7 linked regions of the Homo sapiens genome follow. The protein of the gene in region 1 purifies or fractionates together with the protein of each later gene. This does not show direct contact. Each region holds a gene or a part of one and is shown in the gene's direction. Other genes may lie near its edges.

What was found.
Region 2: the proteins of RAB3IP (region 1) and PLEKHA5 purify together in Homo sapiens (affinity purification with mass spectrometry, with the first as the bait; one large-scale study listed by BioGRID). This does not show direct contact.
Region 3: the proteins of RAB3IP (region 1) and TESK2 purify together in Homo sapiens (affinity purification with mass spectrometry, with the first as the bait; one large-scale study listed by BioGRID). This does not show direct contact.
Region 4: the proteins of RAB3IP (region 1) and SRGAP2 purify together in Homo sapiens (affinity purification with mass spectrometry, with the first as the bait; one large-scale study listed by BioGRID). This does not show direct contact.
Region 5: the proteins of RAB3IP (region 1) and TBC1D25 purify together in Homo sapiens (affinity purification with mass spectrometry, with the first as the bait; one large-scale study listed by BioGRID). This does not show direct contact.
Region 6: the proteins of RAB3IP (region 1) and CCNYL1 purify together in Homo sapiens (affinity purification with mass spectrometry, with the first as the bait; one large-scale study listed by BioGRID). This does not show direct contact.
Region 7: the proteins of RAB3IP (region 1) and DEPDC1B purify together in Homo sapiens (affinity purification with mass spectrometry, with the first as the bait; one large-scale study listed by BioGRID). This does not show direct contact.

The regions. Positions count from the first base shown.
Region 1 is NC_000012.12:69,821,280-69,823,699, forward strand, and holds the end of RAB3IP (rab-3A-interacting protein isoform alpha 1), read left to right. Parts: 3' UTR 1-1,920; downstream 1,921-2,420. UniProt on the Homo sapiens protein: Guanine nucleotide exchange factor (GEF) which may activate RAB8A and RAB8B. Promotes the exchange of GDP to GTP, converting inactive GDP-bound Rab proteins into their active GTP-bound form.
Region 2 is NC_000012.12:19,360,233-19,363,732, forward strand, and holds part of PLEKHA5 (pleckstrin homology domain-containing family A member 5), read left to right. Parts: intron 1-1,349; coding exon 1,350-1,474; intron 1,475-3,500.
Region 3 is NC_000001.11:45,345,774-45,348,163, reverse strand, and holds part of TESK2 (dual specificity testis-specific protein kinase 2), read left to right. Parts: intron 1-163; coding exon 164-246; intron 247-470; coding exon 471-555; intron 556-1,101; coding exon 1,102-1,185; intron 1,186-1,384; coding exon 1,385-1,471; intron 1,472-2,169; coding exon 2,170-2,287; intron 2,288-2,390. UniProt on the Homo sapiens protein: Dual specificity protein kinase activity catalyzing autophosphorylation and phosphorylation of exogenous substrates on both serine/threonine and tyrosine residues. Phosphorylates cofilin at 'Ser-3'. May play an important role in spermatogenesis.
Region 4 is NC_000001.11:206,392,041-206,395,540, forward strand, and holds part of SRGAP2 (SLIT-ROBO Rho GTPase-activating protein 2), read left to right. Parts: intron 1-648; coding exon 649-864; intron 865-1,504; coding exon 1,505-1,633; intron 1,634-3,500. UniProt on the Homo sapiens protein: Postsynaptic RAC1 GTPase activating protein (GAP) that plays a key role in neuronal morphogenesis and migration mainly during development of the cerebral cortex. Regulates excitatory and inhibitory synapse maturation and density in cortical pyramidal neurons.
Region 5 is NC_000023.11:48,556,714-48,559,911, forward strand, and holds part of TBC1D25 (TBC1 domain family member 25), read left to right. Parts: intron 1-2,183; coding exon 2,184-2,311; intron 2,312-2,444; coding exon 2,445-2,633; intron 2,634-2,900; coding exon 2,901-3,198. UniProt on the Homo sapiens protein: Acts as a GTPase-activating protein specific for RAB33B. Involved in the regulation of autophagosome maturation, the process in which autophagosomes fuse with endosomes and lysosomes.
Region 6 is NC_000002.12:207,714,640-207,718,139, forward strand, and holds part of CCNYL1 (cyclin-Y-like protein 1), read left to right. Parts: intron 1-3,500. UniProt on the Homo sapiens protein: Key regulator of Wnt signaling implicated in various biological processes including male fertility, embryonic neurogenesis and cortex development. Activates the cyclin-dependent kinase CDK16, and promotes sperm maturation.
Region 7 is NC_000005.10:60,599,167-60,602,666, reverse strand, and holds part of DEPDC1B (DEP domain-containing protein 1B), read left to right. Parts: intron 1-3,406; coding exon 3,407-3,500.

The DNA.
Region 1 (2,420 bases):
CAAGAGAATGATTCTCTACCGAAACTCTGCAAAATGGGGATATCAAGAGAGTTGGAAAATGTAAGACGTAAAGACCATAATCAGGAAAATACGCATCATATTTGTTATTCACTGAGAGGGAGGAATTTCCACTTAAATCCTATTTCCAGCAGCTGGATTGTGCTCTCAGTGGAGTGCTCTGGATTCTGATTAATAGAGATTTTCTAGTCCTCCCAGCAACTTCCTTCTCAATTCTCTTCACTTTCCGCAGATCTCGGCACCAGGGTTGCATCTTGTGGGCTCCATTGTGTTTTCACACAATGTGCTATTTGTCCTTCACAGTGTTTTGGTTTATTTTTCTGTTTGTCCATCTTGTTTTTGAACAATTGCCAGCATTTAAAAATGAGGAAATCTAAAATCTGCATTTCAAGCTGCTCTTTTTTAAAATGTGCCGTTTCGACAACACTGAGCCCACAGTCTTGAATGACAACACTTGGGTGGAGCTGAGTGACTCCACCTGTCGGGTGGCTACACCCTTGCTCAGGGTATGCACTCCATGGTTTGCTCTATGGCCCACCATCCTGGATTGTCTCCCTGACACCAAGGCTAAGGGACCCACTTTACTCACTTATCTGCTGGGCCTTGGAAGTATTTCAGTTCGGAACCCCAATTCTAACCTTAGCTTCTCAGGCCATTAAATGAAATCTCATTTCTATGATGCTTCCTGTCACATCACTGTGCTGCTGAGAACATGAAGTCTGTGGGTGAATTGGTGGACGGGATCCAGAATCATTACTTGGCAGTGGATTATAGTGTGATGACTCATTTCCGGTGGTCTCCAGGAGACTTGGCTGGGAGCTTCTCTTGGAGTCTAGGGTTAGCCAGAGGCTACATGTTTTAGGCATCTTAATTCATATTTTATCTAAAGGCATATAAATCCTTAAAAAAAATCATTTGACTTCATCCTTGCTCCCTACATCCAGCCAGTAACCATTGCTTTGTTTTACATCGCGTGCTTCAGGCTTTACTACAGCCTACCTGGATTTTGCAGTAGCTTCTTAAACTGCTTAAACTTTGGATATTGCCCCAGCCAACACATTCTGCCACAGAGATCTCTCTGAGTTAAATGGGATTGTATCATGCCCCACACCCAAGCAGATAGAAACTGTCAATAGATACACTTAGAATGAATATGCATGGAATCAAATTACATTCAGAATCTACCACTATAGGTAGTGAATACAACAGGATAGCAGAGGCTGGGAAGGGTAATGGGGGTTGGGGGGTGGGAGGATAAAGGGGTTGGGTAATGGGTGTAAAAATCTATAGAAGGAATATGATCTGTTGTTTGGTAGCACAATAGGGTAAATACAGTTAATAATTTATTGTATATTTCACAATAAAGGAGTGGATTTGGAATGTTCTCAACACAAATGATAAATGTTTGAGGTGATGGATACCCCAATTACCCTGATTTGATCATTATACGTTGTATGTTTGTATCAAAATATCATATGTACCCCATAAATATGTACAACTATTATGTATCCATAAAAATTGGAAATAAACTACCACCATCTTTCTTCAGCCTATTTTCCTATCTCCTCTCGCACCATACTAGGCACACAATCTCTGTACCTGTGCTGTCTTCCAAGCCATTGCTCATGTTTTAAGAAATATACTTATTGTTTAATATATCCTGTACCACTGTAGGATGACTGTAGTTAACAATAATGTGTAGTTTCAAATAGCTAATAGCTGGAAGGAAGTTGTTGAATGTTTCCAACATAAAGAAATGATAAGTGTTTGAGATGATGGATATGCTAATTACCCTGATCTGATCACTACACATTATATGTATGGAAATATCATTGTGTACCCCATGAATATGGGCAATTATTATTTGTTAATTAAAAAAATAAAAAAAAGACCCACCCACTGTTTAAGTGTATCTACATCCTAGCTCTTTGTGGCACCTTTCCAGATCCTCCCAGATTAAATTACTGTCCTTTCTCTGTTCTCTTGAGACATTTTCCCAGCTATCAGTCTGCCCTGAGTTACAGTCACTTGTGTTTTTCTCATGCCCTAGATTTCAGTTTATGGAGGGCAGGGACTATTATTTATTCATTTTTTTATTTCCTGCACCCAGCAGATAGCTTCACACAATTGTTGAAAATTCATTTCTTTAAACAACTTGATGACTTGTCCTTATAGATCTGACAGCCAGTGTGACCGTCAAAAGAAGCTCCTAAACCTTTTCTTTTCTAAGCTAAACTTAGTTTGCTCATTTTCAAGTAACAGTATATGTGTGTAAAATATGTTTGGAATTATGTCACCTACAATTCTAATAATGAAACAATAGACAAATTTGGAAAATGGGTATTCTACAAGGCAATGAGCCTGGACTATAGAAAAAAGTCAAAATCATGAAGAGCACAAAT
Region 2 (3,500 bases), about 50 Mb from region 1:
TGAGGTGGGAGGATCACCTGAGCCCAAGTCGCAGTGAGTAGAGATGGGCCACAGAGTGAGATCCTGTTTCAAAAAAAAAAACAAAAAAAACGTGGCGGGCACAGTGGCTCATGCCTGTAATCCCAGCACTTTGGAGGCCAAGGCGAGTGGATCACTTGAGGCCCGGAGTTCGAGATCAGCCTCGCAAACATAGTGAAACCCCATATCTACTAAAAAATACAAGAGTTAGCCAGGCACAGTGACACATGCCTGTAATCACTACTTGGGAGGCTGAAGCAGGAGAATCGCTTGAACCCGGGAGTCAGAGGTTGCAATGAGCTGAGATCGCGCCACACTACCCTGCAGCCTGGAGGACAGAGTGAGATTCCGTCTCAAAAAAAAGAAAAAAGAAAAAGAAAAAAAGAAAAATTAAAAAAAAATGCATTAACTGAAAATTTAAAACATAATCAGTCACAGCTAGATTAAATTATCATTAATCCCGGTTAAGGAATCTTATATCCCAACAGCTAGGTCTTAGCAATATGCACCATCTCTTTTTTTTGAGACAGAATCTGACCCTGTCGCCCAGGCTGGAGTACAGTGGCGTGATCTTGGCTCACTGCAACCTCTGCCTCCCAGGTTCAAGTGATTCTCCTGCCTTAGCCTCCCAAGTAGCTAGGATTACAGGCATGTGCCACCACGCCCAGCTAATTTTTTGTGTTATTAGTAGAGACGGAGTTTCACCATGTTGACCAGGCTGGTCTCGAACTCCTGACCTCGTGATCTGCCCGCCTCAGCCTCCCAAAGTGCTGGGATTACAGGTGTGAGCCACTGTGCCCGGCCTGCATCATCTCTTTAGACAAATAACTTTTTGCATCCTAGTAGTAAAGAATGTTAATATTATTAATATACTTGAACCTAAATTTATTATCAGTAAATATTTGATAGAGTGTGATTGTTTATTTATTTTTTTGTTTGTTTGTTTGTTTTGAGACGGAGTCTCGCTCTGTCACCCAGGCTGGAGTGCAGTCCGCGATCTCCGCTCACTGCATGCTCCACCTGCCAGGTTCACGCCATTCTCCTGCCTCAGCCTCCCGAGTAGCTGGGACTACAGGCGCCCGCCACCACACCCCACTAATTTTTTTGTATTTTCAGTAGAGACAGTGTTTCACCGTGTTAGCCAGGATGGTCTCAATCTCCTGACCTCGTGATCCGCCCTTCTCGGCCTCCCAAAGTGCTGGGATTACAGGCGTGAGCCATCACGCCCGACCGTGATTGTTCAATAAACTTTATTTTGGAATTATTTTAGATATGCTAATCTAATGTGATAAGAATTCTTTGAAAAGAAAATTTTTCTTTTTATTCTACAGTTAAAAAAAACTGAAAACATTTCATATGAAATGCTTTTTGAACCTGAGCCAAATGGAGTAAATTCTGTGGAAATGATGGATAAAGAAAGAAACAAAGACAAAATGCCTGAGGATGTTACATTCAGGTAATATTTAAGAAAAGCAAAGGAATCATTCACAAAACTGTGTAACTGCTTAAAAATGGTGAACTTCAGAGTCAAAAGTACTGGATTTCAGCCCCAGCTTAGCTACCTAGGAGCTATAGAATCTTGAGCAAGTTATATAACCTCTTAAACTACACATTCCTCACTTGTAAAAATGGCAATAGGGCTGGACGCACTGGTGCACATCTATAATTCCAGCACTTTGAAAGGCCAAGGCAGGAGGATCACCTGAGCCCAGGAATTCAAGACCAGCCTGGGCAACATAATGAGACCTCATCTCTGAAAAAAAAAATTAGCCAGGCATGGTGGCATGTGCCTGTAGTCCTAGTCTGTACTCGGAGGCTGAGGTGAGAAGATCACTTGAGCCCAAGAGCTCGAGGCTGCAGTGACCCATGATTGTGCCAGTATACTCCAGCCTGGGCAACAGAGTGAGACTCTGTCTCAAAAAAAAAAAAAAAAAAAAAAAAGGCATAATAACAGTATCTATCTGACAGGTGTGTTGTAAAGATTAATACGAAAACACATGTGGCCAGGAGCAGTGGCTTATGCCTGTAATCCCAGCACTTTGGGAGGCCAACGGGGGCAGATCACTAGAAGTCAGGAGTTTGAGACCAGCCTGGCCAACATGGTAAAACCCTGTCTCTACTAAAAGTACAAAAATTAGCCAGACATGGTGGTGCATGTCTGTGGTCCCAGCTACTTGGGAGGCTGAGGCAGGAGAAATGCTTGAACCCAGGAGGCAGAGGTTGCAGTGAGCCAAGATCACACCACTACACTCCAGCCTGGGCGTCAGAGTGAGACTCCATCTCAAAAGAAAAGGAAAAAAAAAGAAAATACATGTACAGCACTTTACACTGTGCTTAGCACCTAGGAAGTATTCAATAAATGATACCTTACCCCAGGTGCATGCCTGTAGTTCCAGCTACTCAGGAAACTGAGGTGGGAGGATTGCTTGAACATGGGAGGTCAAGGCTGCAGTGAGCCATGATCACGTTACTACACTCCAGCCTCGGCAACAGAGCAAGACCCTGTCTCAAAAAAATTTTAAAAAGAGAGATAAATACCTTAAAAAAAAAAAGTCAAAAGGCATATAAGCTGTAGCAGAGTAAGCAATTCATCACTGCCTATGCAGTCGGCCCTCCATATTCATGGATTTATGCCTTTACAGTCGGCCCTCCATATCCATGGATTCCGAACCCATGGATCTGGAGGGCCAACTGTACTATGCCATTTGATATAAGGGACTGGAGCATCTGCAGATTTTGCTATCTGTGGGGGGGCCCTGAAATCAGTCTTCCCAGGTAATGATTGACATTGGTCAAAATTCTAAGCTGTCTCATAAGAGTTCCAGAAATTATGGTGATTTTCTTTTTTCTTTTAGCTATATTTCTTTTTTTGTTTTTTTTTTGTTGTTGTTTTTTTGTTTTTGAGACAGAGTCTCGCTCTGTTGCCCTGGCTGGAGTGCAATGGCGCAATCTTGGTCCACTGCACTCGGTTCCCGGAGGGAACCTCTGCCTCCTGGGTTCAAGCAATTCTCCTGCCTCAGCCTCCTGAGTAGCTCAGACTACAGGCGCGTGTCACCACGCATGGCTAATTTTTATTTTTTTATTTTTTTTTTTATTTTTAGTAGAGACGGGGTTTCACCGTGTTAGCCAGGATGGTCTCGATCTCCTGACTCATGATCAGCCCGCCTTGGCCTCCCAAAGTGCTGGTATTACAGGCGTGAGCCATCGTGCCTGGCCATTTTTAGCTATATTTCTTAACTAGCCTTCTTTTTTTTTTTTTGAGACAGAGTCTCACTCTGTCACCCAGGCTGGAGTGCAGTAGTGCAATCTAGGCACACTGCAACCTCCACCTCCTGGGTTCAAGCGATTCTCCTGCCTCAGCCTCCCAAGTAGCTGGGATTACAAGCGTGTGCCACCATGCCCAGCTAATTTTTGTATTTTTAGTAGAGACGGGGTTTCGCCATGTTGGCCAGGCTGGCCTCAAATTCCTGACCTCAGGTGAT
Region 3 (2,390 bases), on another chromosome or scaffold:
TCTTAGAGCCCCTGACCTGACCAGTGGGGTCAGCTTGAGTGCGGTTCACCAAGGAGCAGAGGACAAGGTGCCCTGTGATAGGAAGGGGGGAATGGGTGGTAACTCTATGGCTGATCCCCGCTTCTGAGCCACATTATTTTCTCTTCCTTCCTGGGAACCCTAGAACTGCCTGATAAAGAGGGATGAGAATGGTTACTCTGCAGTGGTAGCTGACTTTGGCCTGGCTGAGAAGATCCCCGATGTCAGGTGTGTAGCCCTACTGGATGCTGGGGTCCAAGGGACAGGGGGCTGAAGCTAAGGGAAAATTCTAGCCTCCTCCCCAGAGGCCAGGACTTGGTCACAGCTCAACCTCAGCTCCCTAAATTTGTTTAGTCCTCGTCTGTACCCATCCTTGAGGTGGAGGAATGGTCAAAAGATTCCATTGCACCAGCCATTGGCAAGCTCATTTTCTGTATAATCTCACCCCACAGCATGGGGAGTGAGAAGCTGGCCGTGGTGGGTTCCCCATTCTGGATGGCACCTGAGGTTCTCCGAGATGAGCCCTATAATGAAAAGGTAAGTTTGGAGGATCTCAAGGCCTGATTCTCCTTTTTTCTTTTTCTTTTTTTTGAGATGGTCTCACTATGTTGCTCAGGCTGGAATGCAGTGGCACGATCTCGGCTTACTGCCTCCCGAGTTCAAGCTATTCTCCTGCCTCAGCTTCCCAAGTAGCTGGAATTACAGGCATGCACCACCACGCCCAGCTAATTTTTTTATTTTTAGTAGAGACAGGGTTTCACCATATTGGCCAGGCTGGTCTCAGACTCCTGACCTGAAGTGATCTGCCCACCTCGGCCTCTTGAAGTGCTGGGATTACAGGCATGAGCCATCGCGCTCGGCTGATTCTCCCTAGAATCCACTCTTAGCAGAGTGTCCAAGATGTTCCTACCAAGAGCAGTGGTGGTACCTGGCAGCTGCCCAGTGACTGACTGGGATGAAGTATGGGCAATATGGCCCAGGCCTGGGCTGTTAGATGGTGGGGTGCAGGGGAGGCAGGGGCAGGGGCAGATACCCTACCCCTCAACCCATTAAGAGGGAAACCAAAGTCCGACTACCCACCAGGCAGATGTGTTCTCTTATGGTATCATCCTCTGCGAGATCATCGCCCGCATCCAGGCCGATCCGGACTATCTTCCCCGCACAGAGGTGAGCTGCAAGCATGGGGATCATTGCCACTGATGGGGCTAGTTTGAAGCAATGGAACTGTTCTGTCCCTGGGATGGACTTGCTGGAACTCTCTGTTGCTGGTTGTCAGGGGCAGCTCCCAACCACTTCTACTGAGCAGGCTAGGATGGGTGGGGGGATTAATGAACTGTCTACCTATGCTTTCCATACCCATCCACAGAATTTCGGGCTGGACTATGATGCTTTCCAGCACATGGTGGGAGACTGTCCCCCAGATTTTCTGCAACTTACTTTCAACTGCTGTAACGTGAGTGTCTTTCTCCCTCTGCCTTTCATCAGGGGCTGGCTGAACCCTTTTCACCTGGTTAGGACTGTACAGAGAGGCTGCTAATTAGCTTCATGAGGGACCTCATTTTCACTGTAGTGACAGCAACCACACCTCCTCCTCCTCCCTCTGGCAGCTAACCTATTCAGAGCTCTGGACAAAGGAAAGAAAGAAGTTGTTTTGTATTATCTGGTCCTCAACCTGTAGGGTAGACCCATCACTCCTTGCGTTAGGTGTTGATGGAACTCTGGTCCGGTTTTATTGTTGGACTGTGGATCCAACTGGTCCTGAGGCATATGAGAAAGGCTCTTCTTGGCCTTCATGTATGTAGCTCTGGGGCTGGACCTTACCTGTTAGGATCAAGGGGTAGGTGGGCTTTGTTCAGATACCTCCCAGAAACACATTAGGAGCAGAACTCAAGAACAGAATAAACTAATATGAGCATACTTTTGGAAGGTTCTGTGACAAGGTGATAAGACAAACACTAAGACAGGGAGGGTAGTAGACAGTAGTGTTTTCCCTGACCTGAACTGTAGGGATCACCTTCATTGTCTGGGGCCTTTAGAAAAGGTCTCTCAGCTGCACATCTGAATCTTCAAAGATGCCAGAAATAGACTCAAATGCCATCTTTGGGGTGGGAGATGGAGGGCAGAGCTCATGGCTGTTGTGGATACCTACAGATGGATCCCAAACTGCGCCCATCTTTTGTGGAGATTGGGAAGACCCTGGAGGAAATTCTGAGCCGCCTACAGGAAGAAGAGCAGGAGAGGGATAGGAAGCTGCAGCCCACAGCCAGGGGTAAGAGATTAGACCAGGGAGCCCAACCTAACCCTAAGGGAGGAAATTCGGATGTGGGGCCTTCTCCTCTTAGGGTTGTGATTGCCAGGATCCCAGGTCCAGA
Region 4 (3,500 bases), on another chromosome or scaffold:
TGAGAAAATGTGTTGTGTGGTACTTGGCATAAAGCCAGGAATATACTAAGTGCTCAGTAAATGATAACTGGCATTGCAGTTGCTGTGAGAGGGTGTTTGATCTGGATAAAGCAGAACAGACAGATCCCCAGAATGCCAGGCCGGTAAAAGGAGCTTTTGGAAGCTTTTCCTCTTCCCTATTTTATATCTGAAAGGTAACAGAAAGCATAGGCTACTCCATAGGCTGCACTGCCCTCTTCGGGGTTCCTGACCAGCCCAGAAAGGCTTTGCCCTTGGGGCCTGAGAGTGGTGGTGTTGTTTCCCATCTACTCAGTATTATGAGGTGACTAAGTGATAGAAATCACCTGGCCAATATTAAAGAGAAATGATTACAAATGATAATGAATAGAAATAAATAATACATGATGGATAGACATTAAGTTATTTCAATAAGAGGAAATGTTGGCTCAGTTCACATATTGCTTTCCTGTGCTTTGGAGTGGTCTTTAATCTGTGTTTGCTGAACCAAACACTTCTGGATTTTTCCCTTAGGGGTGTGAGGATATTGCTTCATGGGGGAGAGCTCCAGCTGAGTCTGTTAGTCTGTAAAGCAGAGAAATGACCCCCTTGGCTTGACCTCTGGGGGTGGGGGTGGGCGATGTCTTGCAGGTGATGAAGACATATCACATGTACAATGCCGACAGCATCAGTGCTCAGAGCAAACTAAAGGAGGCGGAGAAGCAGGAGGAGAAGCAAATTGGTAAATCGGTAAAGCAGGAGGACCGGCAGACCCCACGCTCCCCTGACTCCACGGCCAACGTTCGCATTGAGGAGAAACATGTCCGGAGGAGCTCAGTGAAGAAGATTGAGAAGATGAAGGAGAAGGTATGTAGGCTCCCACAGCTGTAGATGCTGGGAAGCAACATTCGGTAAGGCATGGCTGATAGGAATTTCCCAGTAGTCACTGGGAAGAGCAGACGAGGAAGCTCTGGGTTCTTTTAGTGCCTAATGACTGAAAATGAGGCCTTGCTCTGTGCCCTGGCAGGAATACTAGGTATTGGAAGAACTGGGCACGTGGGATCCAAGTTTCTAGCCTCTAGCAGAAAACCAAGAAACAGCAGTCACCTTTCCCAATCCATTTTCCAAATAGAGCTCAATATCCTATTGCTTTGGAGGGGTTGGGGGTGACTGTAAACCCAGGATTTGGTTTCAGGTATCAGGTGTTCAGGGGCAAGAGTAGTGGTACCTCCTTCAGAGTGGCATTGCAAGAATGAAGAATGATATTTGAAGATAGAATCAAAGTGGGGCACGCATCTTAAGTAGGGAGCCTCATTAACCTTTCCTGAATTGATCTACATTGTGCCCTTGAATCTCATTAAACAGAATTAGAACCCAATTTAAGGCAGATGCGCATAGGGAGTAGCAACACAATTGTAGTTCTTGAATACACTGTACTTTTATCTTTTAGAGAACAAGCCCCCCTTAAAAAAAAAAAGGTAAAAGTGAACTTCTGTTTCCTTTTCAGCGTCAAGCCAAGTACACGGAGAATAAGCTGAAGGCCATCAAAGCCCGGAATGAGTACTTGCTGGCTTTGGAGGCAACCAATGCATCTGTCTTCAAGTACTACATCCATGACCTATCTGACCTTATTGATGTAAGTGCTTAAAGCCAAGGGCCTGAGGGCACCTCTTTTCTGGTTTCAGAATACTCGTCAGACATTCCCCGATACTATTGTTCAGGAATCTGGTGCATTTTGAGAACAATTAGGAAGATAGCAGCCATGATCCATCAGGGTGCTTGCCAAGCACCAAGTGAAACACTTCACACTTATTCAATCCTAACTGGAATTCTGGGAGGAAGGCATTATTATCTATATTTTTACAGATTAACAGAGAGTTTAGATGACTTAGTCAGAGTCAGTTAACAAATGACAGAGGCAAAATTTGCACCTAGGCCTGATGACTCAACCCAGGCTCATAACCACTACACTCGTCTATCTGCCAGGAAATACTTTCTTCCTTTTTTTTTTTTTTTTTTTTTTTTTTGAGATAGAGTCTTGCTCTGTCCCCCAGGCTGGAGTGCAGTGGTGCAATCTTGGCTCACTGCAACCTCCATCTCCCAGGTTCAAGCAATTGTCCTACCTCAGCCTCCCCAGTAACTGGGACTACAGGCATGCATCACCATGCCCAGCTAATTTTTGTATTTTTAGTAGAGATGGGGTTTCACCATGTTAGTGAAGCTGATCTGGAACTCCTCACCTCAGGTGACCTGACCTCAGGTGATCCACCTGCCTCGACTTCCCAAAGTGCTAGGATTACAGGTGTGGGCCCTGCACCCGACCTAGGAAATACTTTATTACATCAGCTTCTCTTGCACAGAAGTGAGTGGCAAGAACTTAACTAAAGAGTTACAATGCCATCCCTTATATTTGTATAGCATTTAAGGTTTCTCAGTGTTAACTCATTTGACTCTCACATCACCATTATGGGTAAGCATTGCTGTCTCCAGTTGCTAGATAAGGAAGCTCAAGGTCCAGAGGACTACGAGACTCACTTGTCCAAGGTTATGCTGCAAATTAGGGTCCTGTCAGGAAGGTATCCAGCTCCCCCTGACATCTGGCCCATTTTTTAAAATATGTGATGCAAAGGGGATTGAGGAAAGCGGCTAATAGGCACATGTGTTTTGCAAGGGGCAAGCGCAGGGATAAGCTTTTTGTTTTTTGCCTGTGAGTTATTCTTGGCCTTGTTTTTCCTGCTGCTTCCCCTTACAGTTGGGTCTTACAAGCCCTCTCACCTACAGACTCCAATCTGGCCCAGGTCCTGAGCCACACCTAAGTGAAGCTATGTAATTACACCCTTTCTCACCTCTCCTTCCAGTCATCAAAGTGAGGCATCTGGAGCCAGCCAATTTAGCATCCCAGTCTCTGGGGCTTCAAGTGTATCTCATCTCGGAGGCCTGCCATTTGTTTCAGGGTCTTGTTGGCAGCAGTTGGGCTTTGCAAAACTCTGGCCCGACCACTCTTGCTTTCCTGCCTTGGTTTCTCCACAAGCAAACCTGCCACACCTCACAACATCATATGGGATTTGGGTCCGAGTCTTGCTGTTATATCACCACCTGGGTCATCTAGGCTTGTCACTGAATTGTTCTGAAACCCAGCTTTGTTTCTCACCCACTCCCAAGCTCCTCTAGCTAACTGAAGAACTGGACTAATTCCCTGGTATTAAAATCTGGCCTCACGTAAGAGTTGCTTGGGGAACTTCTCTAAAATACAGATTCCTGTCTCCCTTTAGCCGAGGATTTTTGATTCAGTAGATTTCAGCCACTTAATGCCCTAGGTGTCATTGTCTCACTGGGTTAGTAGAGCCTTGCTCCCTGTTCTGGTACCTCTTTGTTCTCTCTGCTTATTGATGACAATCTGAACACTGTCCTTCAATGGAGGTCAGAGCCCTAAACAAGATCCTTTCTCCTCCTCAGGGGAAGAGCTCCTCATTGTTGGGAGAGAGGCCTGTTCTCAGCATAAG
Region 5 (3,198 bases), on another chromosome or scaffold:
GCCAGTGTGGGTGACAGAACAAGACTCCGTCTCAAAAAAAAAAAAAAAAAAAAAAGCCAGCCACTGGACATTGCCATTGTTGGCTTAGTAGCCCTCTCGTATCAGGGCTGTAGGAGAGGATCTCTGAAGATCCTCTCGAACCTACTCTCAGATGGCCACTGCTGCTTCAACCACCACATCTTATGTGAGGTGGGAAGAAAGAATGCGGGGCAAAATGAAAAAGAAAGAGAAACGGTCAGGTGCAGTGGCTCACACCTGTAATCCCAACACTTTGGGAGGCCAAGGCAGGAGGATCTCTTGAGCCCAGGAGTTCAAGACCATAGGCAATATAGTAAGATCCCATCTCTACCAAAAAAAAAAAAAATCATCCACGCATGGTGGCACACGCCTGTAAGCCCCAGCTACTCAGGAGGTTGAGGCAAGAGGATCGTTTGAGCCCAGGAGTTTGAGGCTGCAGTGAGCTATGATCGCACCACTGCACTCCAGCCTTGGGGGACAGAGCAAGACTGTCTCAAAAAAAGAAAAAAAAGATGCCTGTAATCCTAGCACTTTGGGAGGCCAAGGCGGGCTGATCACCTGAGGTCAGGAGTTCGAGACCGGCCTGGGCAACATAGCGAAACCTCATCTCTACTAAAAATACAAAAATTAGGCCAGGTGTGGTGGCTCATGCCTGTAATCCCAGTACCTTGGGAGGCCGAGGCAGGTGGATCACCTGAGGTCGGGAGTTCGAGACCAGCCTGACCAACATGGAGACACCCCGTCTCTACTAAAAATATAAAATTCACCAGGCATGGTGGTACATGCTTGTACTCCCAGCTACTCGGGAGGCTGAGGCAGGAGAATCACTTGAACCCAGGAGGTGGATGTTGCAGTGAGCCGAGATCCCGTCATTGTACTCCAGCCTGGGCAACAAGAGTGAAACTCCGCCTCAAAAAAAAAAAAAAAATTAGCTGGACCTGGTGGCAGGCACCTGTAATCCCAGCTACTTGGGAGGCTTAGGCAGGAGAACTGCTTGAACCCAAAAGGTGGAGTTTGTAGTGAGCCAAGATTGCACCACTGCACTCCAGCCTGGGCGACAGAGTGAGACTCCATCTCAAAAAAAAAAGAAAAAAGAGGCTGGGTGCAGTGGCTCACGCCTATAATCCCAGCACTTTGGGTAGGCCAAGGCGAGTGGATCACGTGAGGTCAGGAGTTCAAGACCAGCCTGACCAACATGGTGAAACTCCGTCTCTACTAAAAATACAAAAATTAGCTGGGCATGGTGGCAGGCACCTGTAATCCCAGCTACTCGGGAGGCTGAGGCAGGAGAATCACTTGAAACCAGGAGGCAGAGTTTGCAGTGAGCTACGTTCACACCACTGCATTCCACCCTCGGTTACAGAGTGAGACTCCGTCTCCAAAAAAAAAAAAAAAAAAGCATATACGGCATACCTGTTCCACTTTTGCACAAATATTTTATTTCTAAAGTATGTCTGGGCTCTGGACTAGGGTGAATGAAGTTCAGATCCCAGCCCTACTATTTCCTGGCTGTAGAATCTTGGTCACTTACTATTTGTTCCAAACCTTTTTGTCATCGTCTGTAAAATGAGAATGGTAATATTAGCGTGCACTGTTTGTGGGAGGAGGACTGGCAAAAATATGAGAGTAGGAGTTTGGGCTCTTGAGCTTGGGCCTGGCCTTCAAATTTCCACTCTTTCACTCACTAGCTAAGGGGCCTTGGGCAAGTACCTTATCATGACTGTGCCTGTTTCCTCAAAGAGAGTCATGGTAGTAGTAGTACTCAACCGATAGGACTGAAGTGACTATTGCATGAGTCAGTATTGGCAAAGAATTCAGAATAGTTCCTGGCATACAGCACTGTGGAAGCATTAGCTAGTATTATTATTTCTTATATTGCTGTTGAGCGCTTGTCCTAGTGCTTGGCACATAGTAACTGCTCAATAAATATTACTTTATATCATTAAAATATTAGAGGCTGCCCAGCCAGTTCCTGAGACATCTACTACAAAAGAATTGTTCATGGTTTGATTTTGTTTTTTACATGATTTGGATGATACAGGAAGAGGGACTGGGAGTTGTTTGTTCCCCTGCAGGTAGCCCGGCTTCAGTAGAAGGAGAGGAAGCCGGCCCTGAGGTCTGGGTTATCATCCCCATTCTTATAGCACTTTGTTCTGTTTGCCCAGGCCCATTGCTAGAAGACTGGGACATAATCAGCCCCAAAGATGTCATTGGCTCCGACGTGTTGCTGGCTGAGAAACGGTCATCACTGACGACTGCCGCCCTGCCCTTTACACAGTCCATCCTCACTCAGGTGTTTTCAGGGACCCTAGGGACCCAGCTGTGGTTGGAGGGCAGAGCCTTCCTGGCACCCTGGTTCTGAGCATGCTGGTTGGCATCTGCCCCTAGTCCACACAGCTGATGGTGGCCTCCCTCCCTCCTCATAGGTGGGCCGTACCTTGTCTAAGGTCCAACAAGTGCTGAGCTGGTCGTATGGGGAAGATGTCAAGCCCTTCAAGCCACCCCTGAGCGATGCTGAGTTTCACACGTACCTGAACCACGAGGGCCAGCTCTCCCGACCCGAGGAGTTGCGCCTGCGGATCTATCATGGCGGTGTGGAGCCCTCGCTGCGAAAGGTGAGCATCCTCAGTCATCTGTTGGGTCCATCACTGCTGCACTCATTAACAGCTCCTGAGACACATGCAGTCAGCCACACTGCTGTGGGCAAGGGTGGAGATGTTACAGGGCACGAAGTTCTCTTTAAGGAGGGGCGAGCAGTCGGAGGCCTAGCAGACTTAGAAGGAAGACAGAGGCCCAAGGGGGGTGGGTGGGTGGCAACTGATAGACATTGGGGTATGGTTTATCTGGAGAACTCCAGCCTCATCCCTTTCACCCCTGGGCAGGTGGTGTGGCGGTACCTGCTGAACGTGTATCCAGATGGACTGACAGGCCGAGAGCGGATGGACTACATGAAACGCAAGAGCCGCGAGTATGAGCAGCTCAAGAGCGAGTGGGCCCAGCGAGCGAACCCTGAGGACCTGGAATTCATCCGCAGCACGGTCCTCAAGGATGTACTGCGCACTGACCGGGCCCACCCCTACTATGCGGGGCCTGAGGATGGCCCACATCTACGGGCGCTGCACGACCTGCTCACCACCTATGCCGTTACCCACCCACAGGTGTCCTACTGCCAGGGCATGA
Region 6 (3,500 bases), on another chromosome or scaffold:
AGGTAAGGTACCAGGCATTAAGCATGGGATGATGATAAAGAGTGCTAAATCAGAAAAGTTGGAAAAAGAGAATTTGTAAGCACAGAATTTACCATTGTATGTTAGTATGACAGTTACATTTTTATTTCAATTTGTCTCAAAATTTATTTTTGTGGCATTCAATAAAGTGATAATAGAAATCTCCATTTCGGCATTTGCCTATTATTCATAAGTTTCCATAGAAACATGGCCAGAACACCAAATATAAAGTATAGACACATTGAAAGTTTGCTTTTAATATCTTTATTTCAGACAATTTTATATCAGTCTCCCTGGAAACAGAAATTCTTACTGAGATGTAAAACATTTGGCTGGGCATGGTGGCTCACGCCTGTAATCCCAGCACTTCGGGAGGCTGAGGTGGGCGGATCACGAGGTCAGGAGTTCGAGAGCAGCCTGGCCAACATGGTGAAACCCCGTCTCTACTAAAAATACAAAAATTAGCTGGGTGTGGTGGCGGGCATCTGTAATCCCAGCTACTCAGGAGGCTAAGGCAGGAGAATCACTTGAACCCAGGAGGCAGAGGTTGCAGTGAGCTGAGATCGTGCCACTGCACTCTAGCCTGGACAGTGGAGCAAGACTCTGTCTCAAAACAAACAAACAAACAAAAAATTTAGCTTTTCTACAATGAAGAATTATTTTTGTTACTTAGACAAAAATCATACATAAATGACGCTCGGCTTTGTTCTTCAAGCTATTTCTTTTTTTTTTTTTTTTTTTTTTGACAGAGCTTCACTCTTGCCTAGGCTGGAGTGCAATGGCACAAACTTGGTTCAGTGCAACCTCTTCCTCCCGTGTTCAAGTGATTCTCCTGCCTCAGCCTCCCAAGTAGTTGGGATTACAGGCATATGCCACCATGCCCAGCTAATTTTTGTATTTTTAGTAGAGACAGGGTTTCAGTATGTTGGCCAGGCTGGTCTCGAACTCCTGACCTCAAGCGATCCAGCTGCCTTGGCCTCCCAAAGTGCTGGGATCATAGGTGTGAGCCACCGCGCCTGGCCTTTTTTTTTTTTTTGAGATGGAGTTTCGCTCTTGTTGCTCAGGCTGGAGTGGAATGGCGCGATCTCGGCTCACTGTAACCTCTGCGCCCAGAGTTCAAGCAGTTCTCCTGCTTCAGCCTCCTGAGTAGCTGGGATTACAGGTGTGTGCCACCACGCCCAGCTAATTTTTTGTGTTTTTAGTAGAGATGGTTTCACCATGTTGGCCAGGCTGGTCTGGAACTCCTGACCTCAGGTGATCCACCTGTCTCAACCTCCCAAAGTGCTGGGATTACAGGTGTGAGCCACCACGCCTGGTCTCGTCAAGCTAAGAGATGCTCCTAAGAACCTAGTAAACATTTCAGATAGACTCAAAGTATTTTCTACTACCTTGCCTTTATTTAACGGTATGTCTAACATAACTGACGGTAGTATCAGTAACACAAAATAAGATACTAAGATCTTATTGTCCGATTTTATTAGTACTCTTGACTTTTCATGGAGCATTTTATGTTCTGACGTTAGGAGCTTTGCTAATTTGCTGGCTAAAGGCGCTCTCTGAAGTGACTCTTTCTATTCTTTTCCACTGATGGGTGAAGGTAGGGAAAGAATTGGCAATGTAATGTGGAAAAACCTCTGAGCAACAGATCTTTCCTCTTTCCAGTAGCTATTTTAAGCCCTCTCTTTTTTTTTTTTTTTTGCTTTTTTGAATAATATGTTTGATGTAAAAGACATAGAGAATACAGAAAAGTCATTGATTATGGTATGCATATGAATATAACATTTTATTTTAGAAAAATGAGATCATTCTATATGAGCTGCTTCATAACTTACAGCAGTGAAATAATGTCATAAATTCCTGAATCACTGCTTGACATCCAGAGAGTGCTCCAAGATATCTTTCCATGCCAGGACACCCTGCTCTATCGCATGCCTTCTAGTAACTGCTTAATGTACCATCAGATGGTTGGAGTATCATTTATTTACCTATCCTTTATGATTGGGCATCTTTTCTAGTAACATCATACACAGTCTCATTACATTTGATTTCAAGGGTACCGATAAAAACATATTTTGATGACTGATGCCTTGTACCTCCCTGTAGAATTCAGTTAAATCTATGGGTTGAGTCATTTTGTAGTTAAGATATTTTAGTATTAAATGTTCTTATGGGCCAGGTGTGGTGGCTCACGCCTGTAATCCCAGCACTTTGGGAGGCCGAGGCGGGTGGATCACGAGGTCAGGAGATCGAGACCATCCTGGCTAACACGGTGAAACCCCGTCTCTACGAAAAATACAAAAAATTAGCCGGGCGTGGTGGCGGGCGCCTGTAGTCCCAGCTACTCGGGAGGCTGAGGCAGGAGAATGGTGTGAACCCAGGAGGCAGAGATTGCAGTGAGCCGAGATCACGCCACTGCACTCCAGCCTGGGTGACGGAGCGAGACTCCATCTCAAAAAAAAAAAAAAAAAAAGTTCTTATGTCAAATTGGAGTTAGCATTGACTTTTCCCTGGACTTTAGAATTCATCATTTAATATTTTTTGTTTCTTGGTAGCCTATCTTGCATCTTTAATTCTGAATAGCTACCACTTTAAAAGATTTGATGCTTACCACTTTAAAAGATTTGATTAGATGACAAATCAAGAGAGAATGTTAGAAGAAATATTAAAAGATGTGGGAAAACTGGGAGAAACTTGACTAGTTTTGGGTGTGCTGAAACAGATGTTTATTGAGTACCTTTAGGTGGCCAGGCTGTGTTCCAGATTTAGGGCAGACAGTGGTATACAAGACAGAACCTCATCCTAACTCTGATCCTTACATTCTGGAGGGAGCTAGGGATAGATAATACATGAATAATCAAGAATGTTAGGTGGTGAGGTGCTAGGGAGAAAAGTAAAATAGGGTCATGGATTGGGGAGGAGGACAGTTACATGGGGGTTGTGGGGATGAAAGATGGCTGCTCTCCTTACGTGACCTGTGAGCAGTCCTAAAGTGAGAAGGGAGCCTTGTGAGGATGGTTGGTGAGAGCCAGGGGTCCACACAGACAGTTACTTTGGAGTTCCTTGAATGGGAGCAAACTTGTTTTTGGCCAAGGACAGAAAGACACAGGGTGGCTGCGGAAGAGTGAAAAGGATGCCAGGACTATGGTGGGTTAAGGCCATGTGTGTATAGTGGGCCTTGGCAAAGAATATAGACTTTAGTTGTGATAGGAAACCATTGGAGGATTATAGCCTGGGAAATATTTTTAATTCTTTTTTTTTTTTTTTGAGATGGAATCTTCACTGTGTCGCCCAGGTTGAAGTACAGTGGCTCAATCTTGGCTCACTGCAACCTCCGCCTCCTGGGTTCAAGCGATTCTCCTGCCTCAGCCTCCCGAGTAGCTGGGGCTACAAGCACGTGCCACCACACCCGGCTCATTTTTTGTATTTTTAATAGAGATGGGGTTTCTCCGTGTTAGCCAGGATGGTCTCGATCTCCCAACCTC
Region 7 (3,500 bases), on another chromosome or scaffold:
GCTGCTGTTGTCATGGTGGTTATATAAAAACAATGCAAAAGAAATATAATATATTATTATCGTGTGGACCCCAAAGTGGGGTTTGTATGTCAGCCTGTGGGAGCAGAAACCTGGTAAAGGCAGGCAGAAGGTCCACTTGACTCCTTCTGACTGATTGGACCTCTTCTCATTTGAGATCTTTTTGAGGCACCACAATCAAGGACCAGTGAACTGCCTCCTTCTGAGGTATTACAAAAATAATTAATTGTCCAGCTGTTTCTAGAAGGCAATTTTAAAATTAAAATTTTTTCTATTTTTTTGCAATTATCAACCTAACACATTGAAGAAACTTGGGAAATATAGAAAAAACACACCAAAAAGTATCAGAGTTACACTAAAATGTTCATAGTCAGTAATATAGTCTTTCAGATTTTTTTTTCTGTGTCTGTCTGCTGTCTATGTCCATGCCTACCTTACTTTCTTCCCTCTCTCTTCCCTCCCCACCCTCCCTTCCTTCCTTCCCTCCTTCCCACCTTCCCTGCTTCCTTCTTGCCTGCCTCCCTTCCTGCCTGCCTCCCTTCCTGCCACTTACATTCTGTTAACAATGAGAAAAAAATTCCCCCATCATTAAATATTGTTGATTGGCATGAGAATGGCCAAGAGCACAGACTCAGGAGCCTTTGAATTCATGACATGCCTTTTGTTAGCTGTGTCACCTTAGGCAAATTATATAACATGTCTGTGCTTCAACATCTGTCCCAACATTTCTTTTTCTCATCTGTAAAATGGGAATAATAGTAGTTAATATTTACCTCATAGAGTTTTTCTGGGGAATTAAAACATGTGATTAAAATACATGTGGGCTTAATACATGTGAAATGCTCACAATAATGTTTATCACATTGTAAACCTACAATTAGTAGCTGCCTTTGTTGTTGGTATCATCATTATTGTTATATTATTCCATAATAATATTATTGGCAACATAGTATTCCATAATATGGATATACCATAATTTATTTAAATGATACTTTTTGGTTGGTATTTAGATTGTTTTCATGCTTTCCCCCATTTTGGAAGCAATATAGCAGTAAATATTTTTAAAGGTAGATTTTTTTTGGCTAATCTGTGATTATTTTTTAAGAATAAACTCCTAGGGGCAGCATTGCTTGGCCAAAGGCCATGAACATATTTTAAGTATCTATAGCATATTGCCAAATTTAGAATGATCATTTCAATTTACATTTCTGTCAGTGGTATAAGAGAGTGTTCATTTCTTTGCCCCTTTGCCTACTTTGGATATTATCATTAACACTTGTATATATCTTTGCCACTTGCATGGGTGAAAAGTGTAATTTTAACTGCTGTTTTAGTTTAATTTTTTCCTCTGATATTTTTATGAGCCAACCCTAAAGAAAATAAAAATGAACAGAAATACTTCACCAAGTTTCTGCAAGGAAATGTTATAGCAGTGTATTAGTCTGCTCTCATGCTGCTAATAAAGACATACCCAAGACTGGGTAATTTGTAAAGGAAAGAGGTTTCATTGACTCAGAGTTCAGCATGGCTGGGGAGGCCCCAGGAAACTTACAATCATGGCAGAAGGGGAAGCAAACACATCCTTCATGAGGCAGCAGGAGAGAGAAGCACCGAGCAAAAGGGAGAAAAGCCCCTCATAAAACCATCAGATCTCATGAGAACTCACTCACTATCATAAGAACAGCATGGGGGGAACCACCCTGTGATTCAGTTACCTCCCATCTCCCACAGCAAGGGGATTATGGGAACTACATTTCAAGATGAGATTTGGGTGAGGACACAGCCAAACAATATCAAGCAATAACTGTGTTGCCCTGTATACTTGCTAGGTTTGTGTATTCACATGCATAGCACAGGCATATATTGTAGTAACTTAGCCTTGTGAGCCCTTTGCTATTACTTGAAGTTCAGAAGGCTGAGCTATGGTGATTAATTTAACTGCAGGTAAACATGATCTTGTTAAGAGACACTGCAGTGTGCTCTGAATAAAATCAGTAGTGATTCATTTGTCCAGTTACCTTTTCTCTCTTGCAAGTACATATTAGAATTGCCAAGCACCTGTTCCATTCAGCCCTCAGAACCTATAGATCTTTGTTCTTTTGATTAGGCTCCTAAGCCTCTACACTGTATCACATTTAGGGGAGTGCTTCTCTGAAAATGCAGTGTTGCTTGGATTATTCCAGTGATTGTTTTAGGACAGTTTCAGGGCTGACCCTGGGATACATTATTAGGTAGGCAATGTTTTTGACACAAGCCTTCTATGATCCTCATCTGCAACCTTCTATTTCAAAGGACTCCAGGCTCTGAAATTAAATATTTTTAATGTATGTTCATTTATTCACAGGCCTTGGTTTCCTTTTTCCTCTTATTTCTCTCTTCTCCCTTATCCCTTCTGCAATGTCTGCACCTTTGTTGTTTTACTTGATTCTCATGGGTAAGATGTTAGGAAATGATTGTAGTACCCCTCTCTTCCTAAAAGCTTAGCTAAATGCATGCCACTACCATCCCCAAGGCATTGAGAATCACACTCTTCAGATGTGGGAATGCGCCTGGATAGTTCCAGTGGATATCCAACATTATCAATGTTTTGAATCATTTTAGTCAATGTGTTTAATTTATGCTTGAATTTCAGATCTTGTTAAAAGAGGGAATGCCGAGACCAGCTCGGTCGTGGAGACCCTAACCCAGTGGCCCTAGAGGAATTAAAGACACACACACACACACACACAAATATAGAATGTGGAGTGGGAAATCAGGGGTCTTACAGCCTTCAGAGCTGAGAGCTTTGAACAGAGATTTACCCACATATTTATTGACAGCAAGCCAGTCATAAGATTTACTAAAAGTATTCCTTATGGGAAATAAAGGGGTGGGTGAAATAAAGGGAAGAGCTCTGGCTAGTTATCTGCAGCATGAACATGTCTTTAAGGCACAGATCGCTCATGCTATTGTTTGTGGTTTAAGAATGCCTTAAGCGGTTTTCCGCCCTGGGTGGGCCAGGTGTTCCTTGCCCTCATTCCTGTAAACGGACAACCTTCCAGCATGGGCATCAAGGCCATCACGAGCATGTCACAGTGCTGCAGAGATTTTGTTTATGGCCAGTTTTGGGGCCTGTTCCCAACGAGGGCACAAGCTTTTTTTGTTATTGAAATGGCTCTTGGGTTTACAAAGGTAAAAATCCAATTTAAAACCGTGGCTTTAAATAATAATATTTTGAAGTTATGGAAATACTTTTACTTTTCAATATAGAGTTTCCCCCAATCAAATTTTGAGGACTAACATGGCATTGCTACGGTACAAGGAGATATCCTGTATTTGATCTAAACTAATTCTTATAATTTATTTGAAAATATGCTATATTCTTTCACTACTAATCCTTTTGCCTCAGATAAAATACCCAGGAGCTGATATGGATATCACTTTATCTGCTCCATCATTTTGCCGTCAAATTAGTCCAGAGGAATTTGAATATCAAAGATCAT